2 linked regions of the Homo sapiens genome follow. The gene in region 1 interacts genetically with each later gene. Each region holds a gene or a part of one and is shown on either strand. Other genes may lie near its edges. The genes, in order: PMCH and NPY.

Region 1 (10,185 bases):
GCACATGAAACATAATTTTTAGTGATCTGGGAGATGGAGACTGTCACAGACCTCATTAGTCAGAAAGATAGAAAATTTGTCATCCTAGGAAAACTTGCTTTTATGAAGCAGCTGGACAGACGAATATTCTAACTTTTTCTAAGTCATAGTCAGTAGATTTCACTGCCATTGTCTTTACAAACATCTGAGTGAATTAATGCATCGATCTTTGAACATATAATATATAACTACTGAATATATAAAGTCATGCTGTTTTAGATTTCATGACTGTATCAACAAATACTCTGTAAGTAATAATCAGGGTAATGTAGTTATACTCGAAGTGTTACATTTTTGAATTACTGAAGTCATCTTTATTGAATTATGTATTTGAAACTTTGTCTATGTCAGAAAATGATTTCAGGTGACTTCTAATTATTTGGAGACATCTCTCCATTAAACCTGAATGGTATTACACATCATTTGTAATTGTTGAAATTGGCATTATTTGTATAGGCTACTTTGTTCTAAAATTAATTTCTATCCCCAATAGCTCACTGGTTTATGTTTGTGGAACAAATTTCCAAAACTACTTTTTTTGGCATCCTTTTCAGTGATCAAGAATTGAGTTCATCTTTGTAATTTTCTCCTATTTATGTAGAAAGTTAGGCCCTCCTATTTGATGTTTGAAGATAAATGCAAGAGTATACTTTGGATTTCTGACCATTAAGTCACTTGGTCAAATCTTTCTAGACTGATACATTGAATCATCTTTCTTGTTTTCCTAAATACTCGAGAAATAATGTCTTTCCTATATCATTTTGTTTTATCTTGCAGTTTCTTTGCTAGTTTCCTGTTTTTGATTGACCTCACTTAGTTCTTTTTTTCATCTTAGCATTTCTTCCCTCCCTAATTTCTTGAATTCCATATGCTATTTTTTTTCCAAGAGTGTGTTCTTCTTAGGATGAAGAACTTGTATTTTTCTATGATTATGTATATCACCTGTATTGTTATTTTACTTACAATAAGACGCTCCAAAGCAGTGCTGACACAGGAACATGTAACAAAGCCCTGCGAAGAGTCTAAAATTGATTGTTTTGTAACTGTTACCAAAAAAAAAATCAAAAATATACATAAAGCTATTATTTTGGAAAAGAACAAAAATGCTAGCCATAACAATGAATGAGTTTGCAAACTATGAAATATAAAAGGTTAGAGAGAGGTTCTCAATGAGTAATAGAATTTCTAAGGGAAATTTTTATACCTTGATTACTATAGAGTGTGTGTCTATCTAGATGAAGAAATAAAATAATGAATAAATTTGCATATTTTCTTCTTTCTTTCTGTTACTAGATGAAGCAAACTTTAATTAGATCCCAATTTGCTTGTACTTATAAAGATGACTACATGATAAGCAAGGATAATTGGAATAATGTTAATTTAGCATCAAAGCCTTTGTGTGTTCTTTACATGGAAAATGACCTTTCTGGTAATTGACCTTATTTGTGCAATTAAATAACAATTTAATTCTAGTCTACTAATTAGTTTTAACTTAAGTAAAATTAGGTTATTTTTGCAAAGTACTATGAAATGTAAAGGGTAATATTTTTAAAGACCTCAGTTTATTTAAAAAGTTAAATCTAAGTACAAATTTATCGATAGGAATAGGACACAGTTTGATTTAACTAAATGTATTTAAGAAGTAATTTGTAGCATATGTTTAAGGATTAAATGTCATGCATTCAAACAAATATTTCTTAATAGGGCTGACAAGTTGATTACTGGCCAAAGCTAACTCAGAGGTGCTATGATAAAATGAAAAGTAATAGGATAGTAATGTAGCTATATTTGTCAATCATATTATTTATAGCATTATTTTACTTTAAAAATTTGAATATTCGTTAGCCATTTTTAAAGTTTATTGTAAAGTTCTCGTAAATATTAATACTCAATATCATGTAATTCCTTTCCCCTTTTTATCTTGCATAACAGAGGGTGTAAATCCATCTGTTGGAAGATCAACAATTGGAACGAGTTTTGGAAATGTTCATCTGGACAGAAGTAAAAATGAAAAAGTATCAAGAAAATCAACCAGTCAGACAGGAAATAAAAGCTCAAAAAGGAAACAGGTGGATTTGGATGGTGAAAATATTCTCTGTGATAATAGAAATGAACCACCTCAACATAAAAATGCTAAAATACCTAAGAAATCAAATGATTCACAGAATAGATTGTACGGCAAACTAGCTAAAGTAGCAAAAAGTAATAAATGTACTGCCAAGGACAAGTTGATTTCTGGCCAGGCAAAGTTAACTCAGTTTTTTAGACTATAAATTTGTGTCTTATATGCTTTAGGTTTATGTATCTATAAACCATTCACCAAAGACATGCTTAATTTTTAAGAGATCAAGGTGTAAATTATGATGATTTATTATTTTGGTCTACAGTGTATGTAAGGTTAGTATGTTAAGCATTGTTTAAAAATACTAGTAAGTCATAATTATGCAGAATTTTCACAAAGTTTAATGCACAGAGAAAGCATATCATTTCAGTTACTGATACATCTTAACACTACTTTCTTTTAAAACAGACATTTAACATACACAAGTTATAGTAGCAGTATGGGCTTCTCCTCCCATTGGCAATTAAATGCTTTTATTTTCTTCTGAAAAGATGATGTGGACCAACAGGTATCAGACTTGCCAACAAGGTCGGTAGACTCTTCCCAGCATACATCTGAGCACTGAAGGAAGAAGAAAGTTTAAATTGTTTAAAGGACTATAATTATCACACAAAATTTATTAAGAAAAAAAGAATGGATCTAGTATAACTAATTCTGAGTAAACCAAAATGATAATAATTAATTGTTGCTATTTAATCCCACATTTTTGGCAGGTGTAATTGAGCCATGGTCTTATTTGATTTTGTTATGATTGCATCCAAATTCACTTTAACTCAGAGTTCTGTTTAATGGTGGTAGGATGTAAGAATTGAATTTTGAAAAGACTACTCACTGTCAAAATCTCTCCTTCCTATAGGAAATTTAGCTGAGTTTTCTTCATCCCCAATTTCTCTCTTTTCTTGTGTTGATTCAGTATTCTGAACTCCATTCTCAGCTGGGAAAGCTACAGATCCTTTTAGTGCAAGATAAGGTTTTATAGCCAGATTCAGTGGCAGACCATGATTTAAGAAATTATGTTTGGAGCCTGTGTTCTGTAAAGAGAAGGTTGATTTGGTTTTTAGCTATCGTATTCGGAGTGGAACTATAATACAATTGTATAATATTCTTGTTGATCAATTCAAAGTTACTCTGCACTGTTTTTGACTTTTTAAAAATACCTTAGATGCAAATTTATAGGAGAAAAAACACTTTCAGATAAGAGGTGTTTGCTGGGATGGAAGAACTACCTGGCATGTAAGAAATATCGTCAGTCGTCCTAATGCATATTGTGACTGTTTGCATATACTTCTGTTTATAAAAGTATCAGTTTTACTTTTCAGAGGATTTGTAAGAATCATTTAAATTTTCATTGAAATAAACGACAAGTCACATTGCCACTTACCTTTGAAACTTTATTTTCCTCTTCGTTCATGAAACTGCTCTCATCATTTTTATATTGTTCCAGGGAAGGAGCAATAACTGATTTTTCTGCAGTGTCTTCCTTCTGAAAGCCTTTCCCCAACCTGAATGTATTAAATACCATGTCATCATCTAAATTTCTTATGGACTTGGATGCTGAAAGTAAAATACCTTGAGAAAACAAAGAAAAAGTTAGTATTAATATATAGGAAGAGAGATTCATTTTTGCCATTCTTAGTTTGATGTTTGCATACAGTCAAACAAGAAAGAAAATGAAAAATTTCTCTGTCAGCCTGCTTGGTAAACGATTCTGTATCTTTATATATTTTCTAGCTTGAATAGAAAGCACTTCAAAGAATTATACTTTTCATCATTTTAGAAATGACTCATTAGATTGAGGCTAACCTTTATGCAGCTGCTAATACCTACATTGTTTTGGTTTTAGTGACACATTGTTTATTTTGAGTGTGAATTTTCTCAGAATCTGACTAAGATCCTTGGTAGAATGCTTTCTGTTGAGTAGATTATAGTCTCTTGAAAATGGGTTGTTATTAAGGAAGACCACAGGACATCAGGCTCTCTCTATATTATTGTTTCCTTTTGTGTATTTTCTGATTAAGTAAAGATATTAAAACTCAAGTTATTTCACTCAAGGATGATAAGGATAAAGTTTTATTTCCTTTTAATCCTGATTAAACTGAAATAATCCTCAAAAGAGACTTTCTTTTATAAATACTTGATATAGTTTTTGGTGATTAAAGTACATATGCCTGTCAGTGTGAACAAAAAGCCATTCATGCTATATCAAAAATTGACCTGTCAGGTGTATTTTATCTCTGCATTTACAAAAGGATAATATGTACAAATATTTATTAATGAATTTAGAAATTAATGAATTAGTCCATGAAAAGAATATTTATGTGCCCATAAACATTACTTTTGGATGATGAGTTTATGTTGTATGACTTTTAATTAAACATTTCAGAGTTAATTTCTAATTTTGACCCCAATGAATAAGATAATACATTCTTTTATATGTCTTCTGGTACATATATGTAAGAATTTTTCTAGAGTATATTTCTCAGTATGGAATTACTGGATCATGGAGTATGTATATGTTCAGCTTTACTAATGCCAAAATGTTTTCCAACATAGTTGTAAGCGATTTGTGCCCTCGATAAGCAGGGTATGAGAATTTCCATTGTTCCATGTCCTAGCTGACTCTTGTGTCTCATTGTCCTTTTAATTTGTATTTTCCTAATTACCAAAGAGGTTAAGTGTCTTCCCATATGTTTCTGAGCCATTTATGTTTCCTCTTATGTTAAATGCTTTTTTTTTTTTTCTTTTTTGGCTTTGTCCATTTTTCTATTGGGTTGTCTTTTTCTAATTTATTTATGGGAGTTCTTTATATATTCTGGATATTAATTGTTAGTTATATATGTTTCAATTATTTTCGCTCAGTTTGTGACATATTTTCAACCCCTCTGGTGTCTTTTGGTGAACCAAACTGATTAATTTTAATGTTTAAATATTTTTCTTTTTTCTTTATGGCAACTACTTTTAATGTGTTGTTTTTTTTTAGAAATCCTTCTCAATCCTTAGATTATTAACGTGTTTTCATATATTTTCTTCTAAAAGTTTAAATATTTTGACTTTCATGTTTAGGTTTGTAATTCATCTGTAATTTTGTGTATGATATAAGATAGAGATGTAATTTTACTTTTTCCAATGTCCTTATATATTTCTTGAAGAAGTCATCCTGTCCCCACTAATCTGCAGTGCCATCTCTACAGTATATCAGATTTCTATATATGTGTGGGCTCCTTTCAGAACGTTCTATTCCACAGCCAAATCTACAGTATTAATATAACTTTAAAATAATTTTTAATATCTGGTCAAATTTCCCAGCCCTCTACTTACCCACATGTTTTTCTTTTACAGCAGTTCCTTAGCTATTCTTAGTCATTTCTTTTCCATATAAATCTTAAAATCAGCTTTTCAAGTTCCGTAAGAACACTTGACAGGATATTAAGGTTCTAGTTAGGTATCCCTTATCTGAAATGCTTAGGACCAGAAGTATTTTTGGATTTGGGATATTTTTTTCAGAATTTGGAACATTTGCATTATATCAGTTAAGTATCCCAAAATCTGAAATCTGAAATGCTTCAATGAATATATATTTTTTAGCATATTGTTAATGCTTAACAAGTTTCAGATTTTGGAGCATTTTTGGATTTTGGCTTTTCAGATTTGGGATGCTCAACTTATAATCACATTGGTTTTATAGATTTATAGATTAATTTTGGAGAAGAACTGATATCCTGAAGGTAATTTATTATCTATGAGCATGACATTTTTCTGTATTTGCTTAGATCTTCTTTAATCTTTTTTTCTTCTTTAATCTTTTAATGACATTTTCTTTTCTTCATAAAGGTCTTGCATACCTTTGTTGAGAGAATTATAATTCTTTATAATTTAATTGAATTTCTTATTTTTGGTTATTATAAATTGTATTTTGAAATGATCTTTCTAACATTATTGCTGGTATGTGCATGTGCATTTGGCTTGTGCATAGTAATTTGATAACAGAAAAAAACTTTCTAAACTCTTATTTTTTTTTCTTTTTAATTGTTTATAAATGTATAGATTCTTTGGGATTTTGTATGAAGACAATTGATATAAATGATAAAATAATGGCATTTTATCTCTTTCTCCTAACTTCATCTATATTGTGTATACATGTCTTTGTGTCTGTTCATGTGTTCATACACACTGGCCAAAGCCTCCAGTAAATACTGAAAATGGAGAGAAGAGATATCTTTACAGTGTTACTGATTTTACAGATAATGATTTTAATGCTTCACCACTGAGCGTAATGTTTGCTGTAGGTTTCTTATAGATACTTGCTATAAAGTACAGGATGTTCTCTTTTGTTTCTGGCTTACTAATAGTTTTTATCATGAATTGTTGTTGAATATTATTGAATGCTTTTTTTGCATATATTGAGATGACCAGATCATTTTCTCCTTCAGTCTTTGGAAATATTAACAGATTTTTCTAATGTTAAACTAACCATGTGTTCATGAAGAAACCTTTAAATTATCGGATTCAATTTGGCAATATTTGATTTAGTACATTTTACATTTATTATGAGTAAGATTGATTTGTAATTTTCCTTTTTTATATTGACTTTGGTTTGATATTAAGTTTGTACCAATTTCTTACATTGAGGGCAAGATTTATCCTTCTTTCTTTTCTCTCTTGTTAGACTTTGGGTTTGGTGTTTTCTTGGTAGGATTTTTGTTGTTAAGAATTGATGTACTTTCTTCAGTAGCTGTAGTAACATTTAGCTTCTCTGTTTCTTTTTTAGTTTGTTTTAGGAATTTACATTATTGTATAATTTGTCCATTTCACTTAAGTACTTTTTATCTGAGGTAGACTTAACTGCTGATTTTCTCGGGGACTATTAAGATCTTTCTCAGTAAATGTTTTGTGATTATAATTATAAACAAAGGACTCTGACATCCCTTGACTTCTTTGATCTTAGAGCTTCCTTATCTTTTTAATGTTGTTAGTTGTGCCCTACTTTGTTTCCCTTGGTTTGAACCTGGTTTGGATGTGCCTGTTTAATCTATAAAAGTCCTTGTTAGGCTGGGCACGGTGGCTCACGCCTGTAACCCCAGCACCATGGGAGGCCGAGGTGGGTGGATCACCTGAGGTCAGGAGTTTGTGACCAGCCTGGCCAACATGGTGAAACCCCATCTCTACTAAAAATATAAAAATTAGCTGGGCATGGTGGTGGGTGCCTGTAATTCCAGCTACTGGAGAGGCTGAGGCAGGAGAATTGCTTGAACCCAGGAGACGGAGGTTGCAGTGAACCAAACATGGTGCCATTGCACTCCAGCCCAGGCGACAGAGCGAGACTCTGTCTGGAAAAAAAAAAAAAAAAAAAAAAAAAAGTCCTTGTTAATGGAAATCTTTTTTCTTAGATGCTGTTGTGGGAGGGTAATAAATATTAATAATTATGTACTTTGTTTTAAATTTCCACTGGATGAATTGGCTTGGCTGATCTTCACTCAAAATTGGGACCAAATCCAAATGATTTTGACGGTTTAGAGAAGTTAATGTTTTATTTTGTTTAAACTGTCATAGCCTCTGAGCATTATGAGGTTTTGCCATAACCATTTAATTATGGAGATAGTTTCCAATTTTTTTAATGATAACTTTTTTTAAAAAAAACTTTGGTTACTGTGATGTGCAGTGGAGCATAGTAGACTTCTTTTTCATTGATGCTGAAAATGGTATGTCCCCAAGTAGTAGAAGGGAACTTTGGAGAAGTAAAACTATTGCCAGATGGGCTTGGGTGGTTCAGTAAACCTTACAAAGGCAAAAGGCTTATATAAAATATGATCTTCATTTTCTGTTGAACTACTGCTAACACTGTATATTTGCAAGTCACTTTATTAAATTTCTCTTTGTTCCAATTAACACATCTTTGCTATGTGTCACCAGTAAATTAAATGGCAATTGGCCATTGGCTTACTGAGAATCATCAATTTCTTAGTGGCTAATTGTATGAGTGTAAAAACAAGATTGCTCACTTATATAAATTATCAAAAGATATAAGAAAACTTAAAATTCCTTCTCAGATTTCTATAGTAAACAACCCATACACTTTCACCTAGCGTTTACCATTAACGTTTTACTTCTATCCCTTCATCCCTTTATTAATCATCTTATTCTTTTAATGCATTTCAAAGGATATTGCATATATCAGTATGCTTTTCATGAAATACTTCAACATACGTATCATTAACTGGAATTTAATAGTTGTTTACAGCTTTTTTTTGAAGTAAAATTTATGGAAAGTAAAATGCATAAACTATAAGTGCATATTTGCTAATTTTTGACAAATGTGTTTGCTTATGAAACCCAAAGTCCTTTCAAGATACAAGACATTGCCATCACCCCAGAAAGTTATGTCTTACCTTGTTAGAGTTTACATGTACCACCATTTTCCCCACTCCCACCCGTCATTCCAACTCTGCTCTTAGACAATCACTGTTCTAATTTCTTCTGCTGTGAATTAGTTTTGCCTATTTTGGAAATATACAGTATGACGTCTTTTATGGAAGGCCTCTTTCACTCAGCATGTTTGACATTCATCTTTAATGTTGTAAGAAGCAGTAGTTCCTTCCTTTTTTATTACCGTTGTATAAATATACTACAATTGACTTGTCTCTTTTCCTGTTAATGGACTCTTGAATTGTATCCAGTTTTTGGCTATTACGAATAACACTATCTACATTCTTGCACAAGTCTTTTTGTGGACATGTGTTTTTATTTCTCTTGGGTAAATATATAGGAATGGAATTGCTAGGATATAAGATAGATGTATCTTTAATTTTGTAAGAAATTGTTAGATTATTTTCCAAAGTGATTGTACCATTTTATACTTCAACAAAGACTGTATTAGAGCTTTGGTTGCTCCACATCCTCACCAGCATTTGATGTTGTCAGTCTTAATCTTAGCCATTCTGGTAGATGAGTAGTGATATCGTGTTTTAATTACATTTTCCTAATAACTAATGATGTTGAGCACTTTTTCATGTGCTTGTTAGCTATTCATATATTTTCTTTTGTGAAGTGTCTGTTTAGATCTTTTGTTCATTTTGTTGGGCGAGGGATGTTTCTTTTTATTACTGAGTTGTAAGAGTTATATATATTACATATATATTCCTCCCACCCCAGAAATTCCCCCCAACCCCAGAATTTTCTTCTCTTTATCTATGTTTCCAACTGGAGTGGGCCACATGAGACATTCCTGTATAAGATTGGAGAGCAGAAGTGAAGCAGATGTCACGTACGGTTCACACATGATGTCGCTTATCTGCTGGCTCATGTCGTTGGCTCTGCAGCAGTCAGACCTGCGACTGCTCCACTTTCGCTGGATCCACTTTCAGTTTCTCTGACTCCTGGGACACATGTGTGCAGTTCTGTGACAAAGGAGACTAGCTGTCCTGAGGACATCCATACCATTGAGGTCAGATGCAGCAAGATATGATATGAGTTTCAGTCTATCCTCATGGGTTTCAGCTCATGCTGGTGAATTCCAGTATGTTCTTCTTCTTCCCTACTTTACATCCATCTTTCCTTCCTGGCAGCCTGCCCTGTGGACTCCAGCATTAGATGGAATGATCTGCTTAATATTGCTTAATTAGCTTTCACAATTGCATGAGACAGATTTATGTAACAAATTGTGTATATATTTCTGTATATGTGAATATGTATGTGTGTTGTTCTGCTTCTGTGATTGACTTCTGACGGACACTTCCCAACTCTTTTTATGAGTCTAGCATAAATTTGGTACCAAGACCTGATAATGCTATTACAAGAAGGGAAAATTATAGGCCAATATTTCTAATGAACATGGATGTAAAAATCCTAAACAAAATGTTATCAAATAGAATCCAGTTATGAAAAAGGTAAAATTTCATGACCAGGTGAGGTTTATTTCAGGAATGTAAAATTGAACTTTCAGAAAAAAATTGGTAAAATTCACCACTGTAAATGAATACAGGAGACAAAAACACGATCATCTCAAATATAGAAAAGCACAATGATTG
Region 2 (11,392 bases), on another chromosome or scaffold:
AAGTCTATACCAAATTGCGTCTTTTGAAGAGGCCATTTTTCTCTTTCTCAGAAAAGGCATTGGACACCATTCGCCACTTTGTTTAGAAATAAATTAGTCTGGTATGGATTGGTTAATAGGTCCAACAACTGAACAAAGCTGACAGAGGGTATATTCTAATTGCCAAGCAAAATTATATCTAAATTTTTTGGAAATATTTTCTATGACTGTTCTTTTGCTGAGACTCAAGGGAAGCAAAAACAAAACAACTCCCTGTCCCACTCCCATCATGTGTGAGATTTTCTCAAAGATTTTCTGGAGTTGCGATATTAGACTATAGGTGTCTGCTTATACTTATTTATTCTGTCCATCCATTGGTTTTACTAATCGTAAAAGTCTAGGGCAACTGTAACTCATTTATCTTCATCATGCTCCAGTGAGTAAAAGAACTGCCAACTTTTTATCCAATTTACCAGTAAAGAACCTAAATCTGAAATAGGAGGATTTGCACAGTCATAATCTTGCATCCAGTTCAGTACTGTTCACTCTTCTTCCTTCTTTAATTAATTCTGGATCATCCTTCCCCTCTACAATGCTGTAACTTTCAAAGATTGAGTCCTTAGAGTAAAGATTCTCAAACCTGGCTGCACATTAGAATCACCTGGGGAGTGTTAAAAACACACTCTAAAGCCCAGGCCCCATCCCAGAGGGTCTGATTTAATTGGTCAGGGGTGGATCCCAGCATCAGTGTATTTTAAAAGCTCCCCTGATAATTTTAATGTGCAGCCAGGAAGGAGAAACACTAATCTAAGGCTGAGTTTCTCTGGGACTGGCTATTCTGTGTAATGGGGGCTGTCCTGGGCATGGTAGGATATTTAGCAGCCTCCTTGGCATCTATACACCTAGGTACCAGCAGTGCCCACCTCCAGTTGTGAAAACCAAAAATGTCTCCAGACACTGCCAAATCACACCTGGGGAGCATAAAATCACCCCCAGTTGAGAACCACTGATTTAGGGGGCTATATAAATAAATTGTAGGAGACCCACACTCTAGAATAAGTAATGCAGCTTCCAGAAGCAATGAGCCAGGGGTATATATACAGCAAAAGGAATATAAGCACAAATTGAGTGCAGGGGGAATGCTGGTGGCGGGGGGCGGGGGGAAAGAAAGATAATGATATCAGATTATATCTATACTAAATTAAAGCACATCCACAAATGACCCTGTAATTTTCAGAAACGCACATAGGAGTGGGTGTCTGTGGTGGGAAGGAGAAGATGGACGTACATTAAGAGCCTCTGCTGGTTTCTAAGAAGGAGTTTATACAAAGATGAGACAGGAAACTCTGCCTCAGAGACCAGCTCATTCCCATCTAAGCTGAATCTCTTGCCATGAAACCCAAGTCCCTTTCCTTTATGTTTTTTTCTCATCAAACATGTTGGAGATAACACTGCCTGTTGATGGTGGTGACAACATCCAAAGACACTCAAAGGAGGGCTCCAATTCCATAATTCCTATAAAAATAGCTTCCATGAAATGTCATTAGCTTCATGATTTGTGAAATGAAGATAATTATACTCCCTTCAAAGCTTTGAGGTAACGACTGAATGAGAGAATGCCTAGGAAAACATTTTAAAATGCTAGAGCTTTGTAAAATGGTAAAGCTTTATGGCAATCATCTTCGGAAAAATGAGTTCTACTGTGTATTATGCTACAGCTAAATAACTAACAAAGGTTTTTCTAGAAAAAACAGTTAATATCTTTTTGTTTGTACAAGTTCTCTTTGATCTGCATGACGGCATAACATAGCAAGAATTTGAATCAATTAACTTTCTGGGAAGTATGGAATATAAAATATTATTGCTTTTTGCTAATTAAAATGATCAGATTTCAAGGGATCACAAACAACTACTATTTAATTCTGGCATTTTCATGTTTTTCAGATTCTATATAAATTGGGGCTTTTTCAAAAGTGTTTTAGGATGTTAAATACCTTTTTGATGAAACAGGAAAAAGCAAACTTTATTTTAAAAGTATAAATCTTCCCCCCTTTTGGATCCTTTCCAACTACTCCCTGACTTGTAAACAGTAAAAATATGGACTAAATAAATAAATATATAAACCCCACAATACTTTAAACATATAATTTAAACATGTTAACTAACATTAATGCTTCTAAAGGGCTTATCCTTTAGATACGGTCAAATGACTAAAATCATTTAATCTCAGTAATTAAAATAAGATATTAAATGATTTAGAACTAAGATCAACCAATTTTGAAAACAAAATTTAAATCCTATGTAATTTGTAAAATAGTTTGGATTTGATTTTTCCCTTAATTGTCAATGTTGAGAGTGAAAATATGGCATTTCATTTTGACTTTCGGAATGTTCAGAATAAAGTTTACAATTTCTCAGATTCCATGTAATCCCTGAATTCATCCTAAAGTTACTGGACCAACGTAAGTTTCTTCTTAATGAAATACCAAGTGGGCACTTTCTTTTCAGAATTCACCAGCTATAAAATAGGGAGACCTCTGCATTTTAGATAAACTGTTTTCAGGCTAAATCTCTAATTATTGGGACTAGAATTTTCAAATATGGGAGTGAGACTGCAAAAAAAACACAGTGAAGAAGAAAAGAAAATAGCTCTATTTGTCTTTTTCTAAATACTGTCATTCAATTAGCCCTGGGCAGGCCGGAAAGTCTGACAATGTCTGTGGCAACCCTGCAGTTTACTCCTTGGTTTGGTTTTCTTTGGTGGTCGTTCTGTTTCTCCTAGACACCTTGCTAGCGTTTCCCCCTACAGCATTTCTCTGGCGCATTCTTGCCCCTTTCACTGGGTACTTTCGAGATTTCTGGACCGGGCCCCACTGCCGTAAGAACCACAACAAACCATAAGAGGTGAGTGAGAGGAGATTGCCAGCCTACCAGCCTGGGGAACCTGAATCTGGGGATCACGACTCTGTGACTGTAGTTGCACAAAATGGAAGGTACCCATTTTGTGTAGAGTGTGCCCTGTACAAACATTTACCTAGAGCTGACTAAGTGCCTGATACTGTCCTGCCCTGGGATAGAGCGAAGGAAAAGAAACAATCCCTTTCCCTAACATCCCCAGGATCTCCTGGTGTGCAGGCACTGGCGCTCCCGGAATCGGTCCCGCGGTCCCACCCACCTCTGCCTGGTGATGAGGTTGATGTAGTGTCGCAGCGCCGAGTAGTATCTGGCCATGTCCTCCGCTGGTGCGTCCTCGCCCGGGTTGTCCGGCTTGGAGGGGTACGCCTCGGCCAGCGCACCCAGGCACACGAGCAGGGACAGGGCGAGGGTCAGTCCGGACAGCCCCAGTCGCTTGTTACCTAGCATCTGCAGGCACAGAAGGCTCAACGGACGGGCTTGGGGATTCAGAGCACCCACGCGCAGCACCTCCCTCCTCTGCCCCCCGCGCTCCTCCTCCTGCTACCACACGCGACCCCCAATCCGCTCTCGTCCCAGTCCCGCAGAGAGAACCCAGGAGTGGCTAGCACCACCTTGCGGGCTCCGGGCGCCGTCCGGTCGGGACCTGCCCCTCTGCTCCACCTGAAAACTTCGCGCAACTTCGTTCGAAGTCTCAGGGACCAAGAAGCGCGCGGCGAGAGTGCAAGGTGGGGGCCCCGCCAGTTTAGCATTCAAAACCGAATTGGAAGTTCTTCCTGCTGGGTCACTTTTCTCCCTTCTTGCCCAAACTCTTGTCTGGGAAGAAAAGTTTCTTCTCTGTTACTTCTGGTCTGCCTAGCTTCAGGGGATCAACGCTGACAGCAGAGATCACCTCGGGGTGACGACTGCGGTGGGGAAGGGGAAAGAGAATTGCTCCCTGGGCCAGAATTGCTCCAAAGAGATTTGGAGCCCAAGAATCCAGGGAGGTGGCAGGGCGCGGGGCTCTAGAGCTCCAGGGATTCCTCACTCGATGGCGCTGCCGGGGAAACCTTCCTACCGCGCACCGCTTCCTGGGCCTCAAGGCGGCGACCCGCAGGGAGACCGCCAGCTGCCTTGGGATAGCGGTCCCGGGTTCTCCCTCCATATCTGCTAAAAGGTAACTCAGAAGAACCGCCCAGCGGGAAGGGCCCGGGAGAAGGGCCGTGGACAATCAGAGGGGAGCAGAGGAACAAGTGGAATTTAGCCGCCAAGAGGGCTGGTCCGCGTCGGGGCGCGGAGCCGGCATAGTCCGCTGGGGAGTGGAGCGCGATCATCCCAGGGCCCCAGGGCTCCACAGAGCGGGAGGCTGCGTCTCTAGCAAGTTCGCGGGCGCCCCGTTCGCTCCCACCCCTAGACAGACGGGTCGTAGCACTCACGGTGGCTGGCGCGCGGGCGTGGCTGGGCGGCAAGTACTATGCTGTCGGGCGAGCGTCTCCGAGGGGTGAGAGCCAGCGGATGGGGTGCAGAGAGCGGGTCGCGACAGGGCTTTTATGGAGCTTCCTCGCCGCGGCAGGAGGGGCCTCGGGCAGTCACGCTTGGGTGACTCCCACCCGCCACTTCCCGCCCCTGAGTGGCGGGGGGAGGGGGCTGGAACCGCAGCCGCACGAGTGTCGACTTAGGGAGCCACCCACACCCCAACCCTCCCGCCCCAGGCACTGCCTGAAGAAGCGGGGCCTGGGACCGCGTGAGCGAGGCAGCGCACTCCGAGCGCGCTGGACAACACCAAAGCCCAAGTATCTGCCCTCGGGCAGTGCCCGATCCCTGCTTTCCTTCTTTCCTTCTTTCCTTCACGCCCCGTCTAGTCCTGCCAGAGATAGGAGCAGCCCAGACGATTCTTGTCTCCTGCCAACAGGACTACCAACCCACTGGGTGCCGGAGTAGGAAGCACCTGAATCCTCTTTGTGGTGGGGCATCTCCACGACTAGCGCGGCATCCTCGCCGGGCACAACTGCGCGCTGTTGGAGTGAGGCAACTGGGCGCACAGATTTTTCCTGTACTTAGAACAAGTCGGAGGCAGCTGCCGGAAGTCTCCGGCTAGAGGGTCCCAAAGCTGCGCTCCCCACCCCACCCCCGCCCGTGGTTTCAGGGGCTTCTGCCCCTTCTCTCAGCTGGTTTTTCTAGATCAGCCTTCCTCAAGTACTCGCTCAGACGCAGCGAGCCAGGCTCGGTCGAGACATGAGTGTGGCGACTCAAAATTCCCCAGAGGGGGAACACGGTAAACCTATTCCCCCAGTTTGCTGAAAAAGAGCCACGCTTCCAGCTTCTAGAGACTCTTTTAAGCTCAATTTTAAAAATATATATTTTTTCTTTTTTGGTCCAAAGTGACGGTGGTTAAATGAACAACAGTTTCTGTCTTATTTACTAACCCTTGTATAGTCCTATGTACGTTCAATTAACGTTGAGAATGTGGGTTCTGATTAAGATGAAACATGTTAAAAACGATGAACATTAATTTGCTCATCGCGTTAAACCTGTTGAATGAATATGCAAGATACAGAAACTATTATTACAGGATCAAGATTTTATGCAGTGGACTGAGATCTGAAAGTTCCGTGAATGAATGCTCCTGTATCTTTCTAAATAAAATGGCATTTTATTTCTAAATGAAATATAAGTCTGAATCTTTCTAAATAAAAAGGCATGTTGGGAAATTAAAGCATTAAGTTCCATGTTATTTTAATGCTAAAAGGACAAGTGATTCTGTTAAACTGACACTTAGTTTTTGTGCTGTTCCAACAGCATTGAATTAAATATCAAAAACCGTGAAGCAAACAATCCTTTGCATGTATGTGTTTGTGTGTTTGTGGGATCAAACTATAATTTTGGAGACCAACATCCCTTTCACTTGGCAACTGCTTCTCTTTCTGTATTACACAAACATATGCTGAGGACACAAAAATCAAGGCTCTCAGAGTTGCTCGGGGGTGCTTACAAGACACAGCCTTCGGTAAAAGTGCAAAACATCTTCTAACTTAGAGCTCTTCCTAGATAAAGGGAAAGTTACAGTCCACTTTTCAATAAAATAATCTTATTTTAGAGTGTATCACAGATTCATATCAATTAAAATCTGAACTTAAAATGTATCACTGAATTTGGGAAAAATTACTTCTAGGAAGGCCCACACCACTATTGAGAGAAGAACACTGTGGAGGCTTGATTAATTTAGCTTAAGATAATGTCATTGATTCTCAAGAATAAGAACTTATTCTGAGGGTTAAGGATTCAGAGAATAAAAAATAGGGGGTGATATGCCCTACATGTGCTTACATCCTTATCTCCTTTCTCTCCAGTCCAAGCCACATCCCCTGGCCAAAATACAAACAAAACCAACTGTTGGCAACTCAACCCTGCATCTTCTCCTAGCTGCTGAGCCATTTCTCTCCTTTGTTTCAAAGTCAAGTTGTTTATTTCTAACAGCTTTGTTAAGATAACATTGAGATACTGTTGAGCTTGTTGAGATTCAAAAGGAGGTGAATCAGTGGAGACTAGAGAAGGTAATGACCGAGAGAAGTCAAATAACCGGTAAAGGTCCATGTGGTTTGCAATTAGGAGGTCTTACTGATAGCAGGTTCATAGCTTGATTCAGATAGAACCTGGACCACATGAAACCCAGTGGTTTCATGACTAAACCTAAGGTAAAGAAGCAGAAGGAATGAATAGATACTGCTGAATATATACAAAGCTACAAATGTGTAAAATATTCAATTGGATATATTCTTACACATATGCATGTGTGTTATATGCTCAGGAAGCCATCACTGAAACCAAGAAAATGAAGATTATACATCACTTCCCCAAATTTCCACATGTACCTTTGTAATTCCTTCCTTTTGCCTCTTCCTCACCCCCTCCTCCATTGATCTGCTATCACTAGAGATTTGTTTGCGTTTTCTAGAATTGCACATAAATATAGTTCCACGGTAGGTACTCTTTGTCTGACTTCTTTCACTTAGCATCATTATTTTTGAATCCACTCACATTGTTAAATGTAGCAATAGTTTATTCTTTTTTATTGCTGGGCAGTATTTCATTATATGATATACTTCAAAATTTTTAATCAATTCTACTGCTCATGAATTTTTGGTTATTTTCACTTGAAACTTTTACGAATAAAGCTGCCTTGACATTCATATGCAAGTCTTTGTATGGACATAAAGCCTTTAATTCTCTTGGAAAATACTTAAAACCAGAATGGCTGAGTCAGACGGTGAGTGTATATTGGCCCACAGTTTGTTGGTGATCTGTTTTTGCTTCTGTTTTGCTCATTTTTTCCTTCATATTTTATTTTGGATAGTCTCTATTGCTATGTCTGTGAGTTCACTAATGTTTTCTTCTGTAATATCTGATTACTGCCAATCCTATCCAGTGTATTTTGCACCTTATACCTGGTAGCTTTCATCTCTAGAGTTTCAACTTGAATCTTTTTTTTAAGTTACAGGACAATATAAAGCAATGAATCTTTTTTATATCTTCCGTATCTAAACGTGTCCACTCTTCTCTCTAGCTTCTTGAATATACATTAATAATAACTTTTGTACTACTAACATCTGTGTGATTTTTGTATACTTTGGGTTGATTGATTTTTCTCCACATTATGGCTTATATTTTTCTTCTTCTTTGTGTGCCTGATAATTTTTGATAGGATGTCAGATATTGTGGATTTTACCTTGTTATTTGTTTTTTTGTCTTTCTATGACTGTTCTTGAGCTTGTTCTGAGACAATTAAAAATTTAAAGACAGTTTTATCCATTCAGGTCTTGGATGTGAGTTTTGTTAGGTGGGACCAGAGCTGGTTTTAGACTAGGTTTACTCTTTCCACACTTTGAGGCAAAATTCCTTCTTTTTACTTTAACTGGTAACTGACTTCCCCCCAACACGCACACCTCAAATTGCACAGCTCTCCCCTCTGGCTGTTCAGATAGACACTATTCCCAGCCCTTGGTCAGCATCAGACACAGTTTACCCTTATCTTTTTGTGTAGTTCTTTTCCTGGTCTCAGGTGGTTTGTTCTTGTGTATAATCTGATCAATAATCAACTAAATCCTCAAGGGGGACACCCTTCAGACTTTCAGAGTATTCTTTCTTTTACCTGATAATCTTCCTGTGGACACTAGCTGCCCTGGCTCCCTACACTTCCAGCCCCAGCTCCTTGGCCAGGATGATTCAATTCCTTCCTTCTGCACTGTAGCCTGGATGACTCCTTCAGGCAGTGTATTCTCATGCTGCTATGAAGAAATATCCAAGACTGGGTAATTTATAAAGGAAAGAGGTTTAATTGACTCACAGTTCTGTATGGCTGGAGAGCCCTCAGGAAACTTACAATTATGGTGGAAGGGGAAGCAAACACGTCCTTCTTCATATTGCAGCTGGAGAGAGAAGTGGCGAGCAAAGGGGAAAAAACCTTTTATAAAACCATCAGATCTTGTGAGAATTCACTCACTATCATGAGAACAGCAGCATGTAGGTAACTGCCCCCATGATTCAATTATCTCACACCAGGTCCCTCCCACAACACGTGGGGATTAAGGAAACTACAATTCAAGATGGGATTTGGGTGAGGACACAGCCAAACCATATCAGGCAGTGATCTGGGACCATTGTATGGCTCTTGTCATTTGTTTTCTATCTCTAAGATATTACTGTCCTTTACTGATGTCCAATGTTTTAAGTGTTGTTTCATCTATTTTTGTCTAGTGTTTTAGTTGTTTCAGCAGGGAGGGTAAATCCAGTTCCTGTTTCTTCATCTTGGCCAGAAGAGCAAGTCTTGTAGCAAGGCTTCTTTAAAAAGATGTTTCTATTCATTGTCTCTGGTTATTCACCATAGGTGTAGTCATGAAACCACTGTGATCTAGGTTCTATCTGAATCAAGTTATAAACCTGCTATCAGTAAGACCTTCTAATTGCAAACCACATGGATCTTTATCAGATATTTGACATCTCTTAACCATTACTTTCTCTTGTCTCTCTGATTCACCTCCTTTTTCTCTGAATGTACCACCATCTCCTTTGCTGACTCACCCTTCTGTACCCATAGTCTTAGCCTTAACCTTTCTACTGCACACATAAGCTCATCTACTCCTACAGCTTATGATCCTGAAATCTCTCCCTTCAGCTCAGATTTCATACCTGGAAACCAGGGCGATACGTCTAGCTCAGAAAAACTCCATCAAGGGCCTCAAATTTAGATTATCAAAGTGGAGCTTCCACTAACATGAATGTCTAATTAAATATCATATGAAGTGTAAAATGTTTTCAAAATTCTTCCATTGAACTATAAGGCCCCACATATTTTGGACCCTACATACCTCCTAGGCTCATCTAACATAATTTTTTTCTTCACTCCCTGTATTTCTGTCCATTGTCCTCCTTTCTGCTCCTTAAATATGCCAATCAGCTTTCCTATTTGGGCCTTCATTGTGCTGTGTCTGCTCTCTGAGATATTCTCTCTCCCTACTCTTTACCTGGCCAACACCTACACAACCTTCTGGGTTTACCTTGAAATATTTTCTGAGTGTTCTTTAGGTCCGTTCCAAGAGGCCAAATAGGAACAGCTCTGGTCTGCACCTCCCAGCTGATCGACGCAGAAGATGGGTGATTTCTGCATTTCCAACTGAGGTACCTGGTTCATCTCACTGGGACTGGGCGGACAAAGAGTGCAGCCCACGGAGGGCAAGTCAAAGCAGGGGTGGGCATCGCCTCACCCAGGAAGTGCAAGGAGTCAGGGGATTTCCCTTTCCTAGCCAAGGGAAGCCATGACTGACTGTACCGGGAAAATTGGGACACTGCCACCTAAATACTGTGCTGTTCCCACGGTTTTAGCAAACAGCACACCAGGAAATTATATCCCACACATGGCTCAGCAGGTCCCATGCCCACAGAGCTTTGCTCACTGCTAGCACAGCAGTCTGATATCGAACTACAAGGTGGCAAGCCTGGCTGGGGGAGGGGCATCTGCCATTGCTGAGGCTTGAGTAGGTAAACAAAGCTGCCAGGAAGTTCGAACTGAGCGGAGCCCACCACAGCCCAATGAAGCCCGCCTGCCTCTGTAGACTCCACCTCTGGGGGCAGGGCATAGCTGAACAAAAGGCAGCAGAAAGTTCTGCAGACTTAAACGTACCTGTCTGATAGCTCAGGAGAGAGCAGTGGTTCTCCCAGCATGGTTTTTGAGCTCTGAGAATGGACAGACTGCCTCCTCAAGGGGGTCCCTGACCCCTGTGTAGCCTAACTTGGAGATACCTCCCAGTAGGGACCAACTGACAACTCATACAGCCGGGTGCCCCTCTGAGACGAAGCTTCCAGAGGAAGGATCAGGCAGCAATATTTGCTGTTCTGCAGCCTCCACTGGTGATACCCAGGCAAACAGGGTCTGGAGTGGACTGCCAGCAAACTCCAACAGACCTGCAGCTGAGAGACCTGACTGTTAGAAGGAAAACTAACAAACAGAAAGGAATAACATCAACATCAACAAAAAGGACATCCACACCAAAACCCCATCTGTAGGTCACCACCATCACAGACCAAAGGTAGATAAAACCACAAAGATCAGGAGAAACTGGAGCAGAAAAGCTAAAAATTCTAAAAACCAGTGCGCCCCTTCTCCTCCAAAGGATTGCAGCTCTTCACCAGCAATGGAACAAAGCTGGACAGAGAATGACTTTGACAAGTTGACAGAAGTAGCCTTCAGAAAGTCAGTAATAACAAACTTCTCTGAGCTAAAGGAGGATGTTCGAACCCATTGCAAGGGAGCTAAAAACCTTGAAAACAGATTAGATGAATGGCTAACTAAAATAAACAGTGTAGGGAAGCCCTTAAATGACCTGAGGAAGCTGAAAACCATGGCAAGAGAACTACGTGATGCATGCACAAGCTTCAGTAGCTGATTTGATCAAGTGGAAGAAAGGGTATCAGTGATTGAAGATCAAATTAATGAAATGAAGCAAGAAGAGAAGTTTAGAGAAAACAGAATAAAAAGAAATGAACAAAGCCTCTAAGAAATATGGGACTATGTCAAAAGACCAAATCTACATTTGATTGGTGTACCTGAAAGTGATGGGGAGGATGGAACCAAGCTGGAAAACACTCTTCAGGATATTATCCAGGAGAACTTCCCCAACCTAGCAAGGCAGGCCAACATTCAAATTCAGGAAATACAGAGAACACCACAAAGATACTCCTCGAGAAGAGCAATCCCAACACACATAATTGTCAGATTCACCAAGGTTGAAATGAAGGAAAAAATGTTAAGGGCAGCCAGAGAGAAAGATTGGGTTACCCACAAAGGGAAGTCCATCAGACTAACAGCAGATCTCTCGGCAGAAACTCTACAAGCCAGAAGAGAGTGGGGGCCAATATTCAACATTCTTAAAGAAAAGAATTTTCAACCCAGAATTTCATATCCAGCCAAACTAAGCTTCATAAGTGAAGGAGAAATAAAATCCTTTACAGACAAGCAAATGCCAAG

Evidence for each region.
Region 2: of PMCH (region 1) and NPY, changing one enhances a phenotype caused by changing the other (phenotypic enhancement), as found in Homo sapiens cells (one study listed by BioGRID).

What each region holds. Positions count from the first base shown.
Region 1 is NC_000012.12:102,193,980-102,204,164, forward strand, and holds PMCH (pro-MCH preproprotein), read right to left. Parts: upstream 3,855-10,185; 5' UTR 3,792-3,854; coding exon 3,543-3,791; intron 3,542-3,542; exon of another isoform or gene 3,193-3,541; coding exon 2,994-3,192; coding exon of another isoform or gene 2,986-2,993; exon of another isoform or gene 2,723-2,985; coding exon 2,673-2,722; 3' UTR 2,480-2,672; downstream 1-2,479. Other genes in the region: PARPBP (PCNA-interacting partner), read left to right, coding at 1,333-1,468, 1,972-2,312. UniProt on the Homo sapiens protein: MCH may act as a neurotransmitter or neuromodulator in a broad array of neuronal functions directed toward the regulation of goal-directed behavior, such as food intake, and general arousal. May also have a role in spermatocyte differentiation.
Region 2 is NC_000007.14:24,277,191-24,288,582, reverse strand, and holds the start of NPY (pro-neuropeptide Y preproprotein), read right to left. Parts: upstream 4,394-11,392; 5' UTR 4,308-4,393; intron 3,343-4,307; coding exon 3,155-3,342; intron 1-3,154. UniProt on the Homo sapiens protein: NPY is implicated in the control of feeding and in secretion of gonadotrophin-release hormone.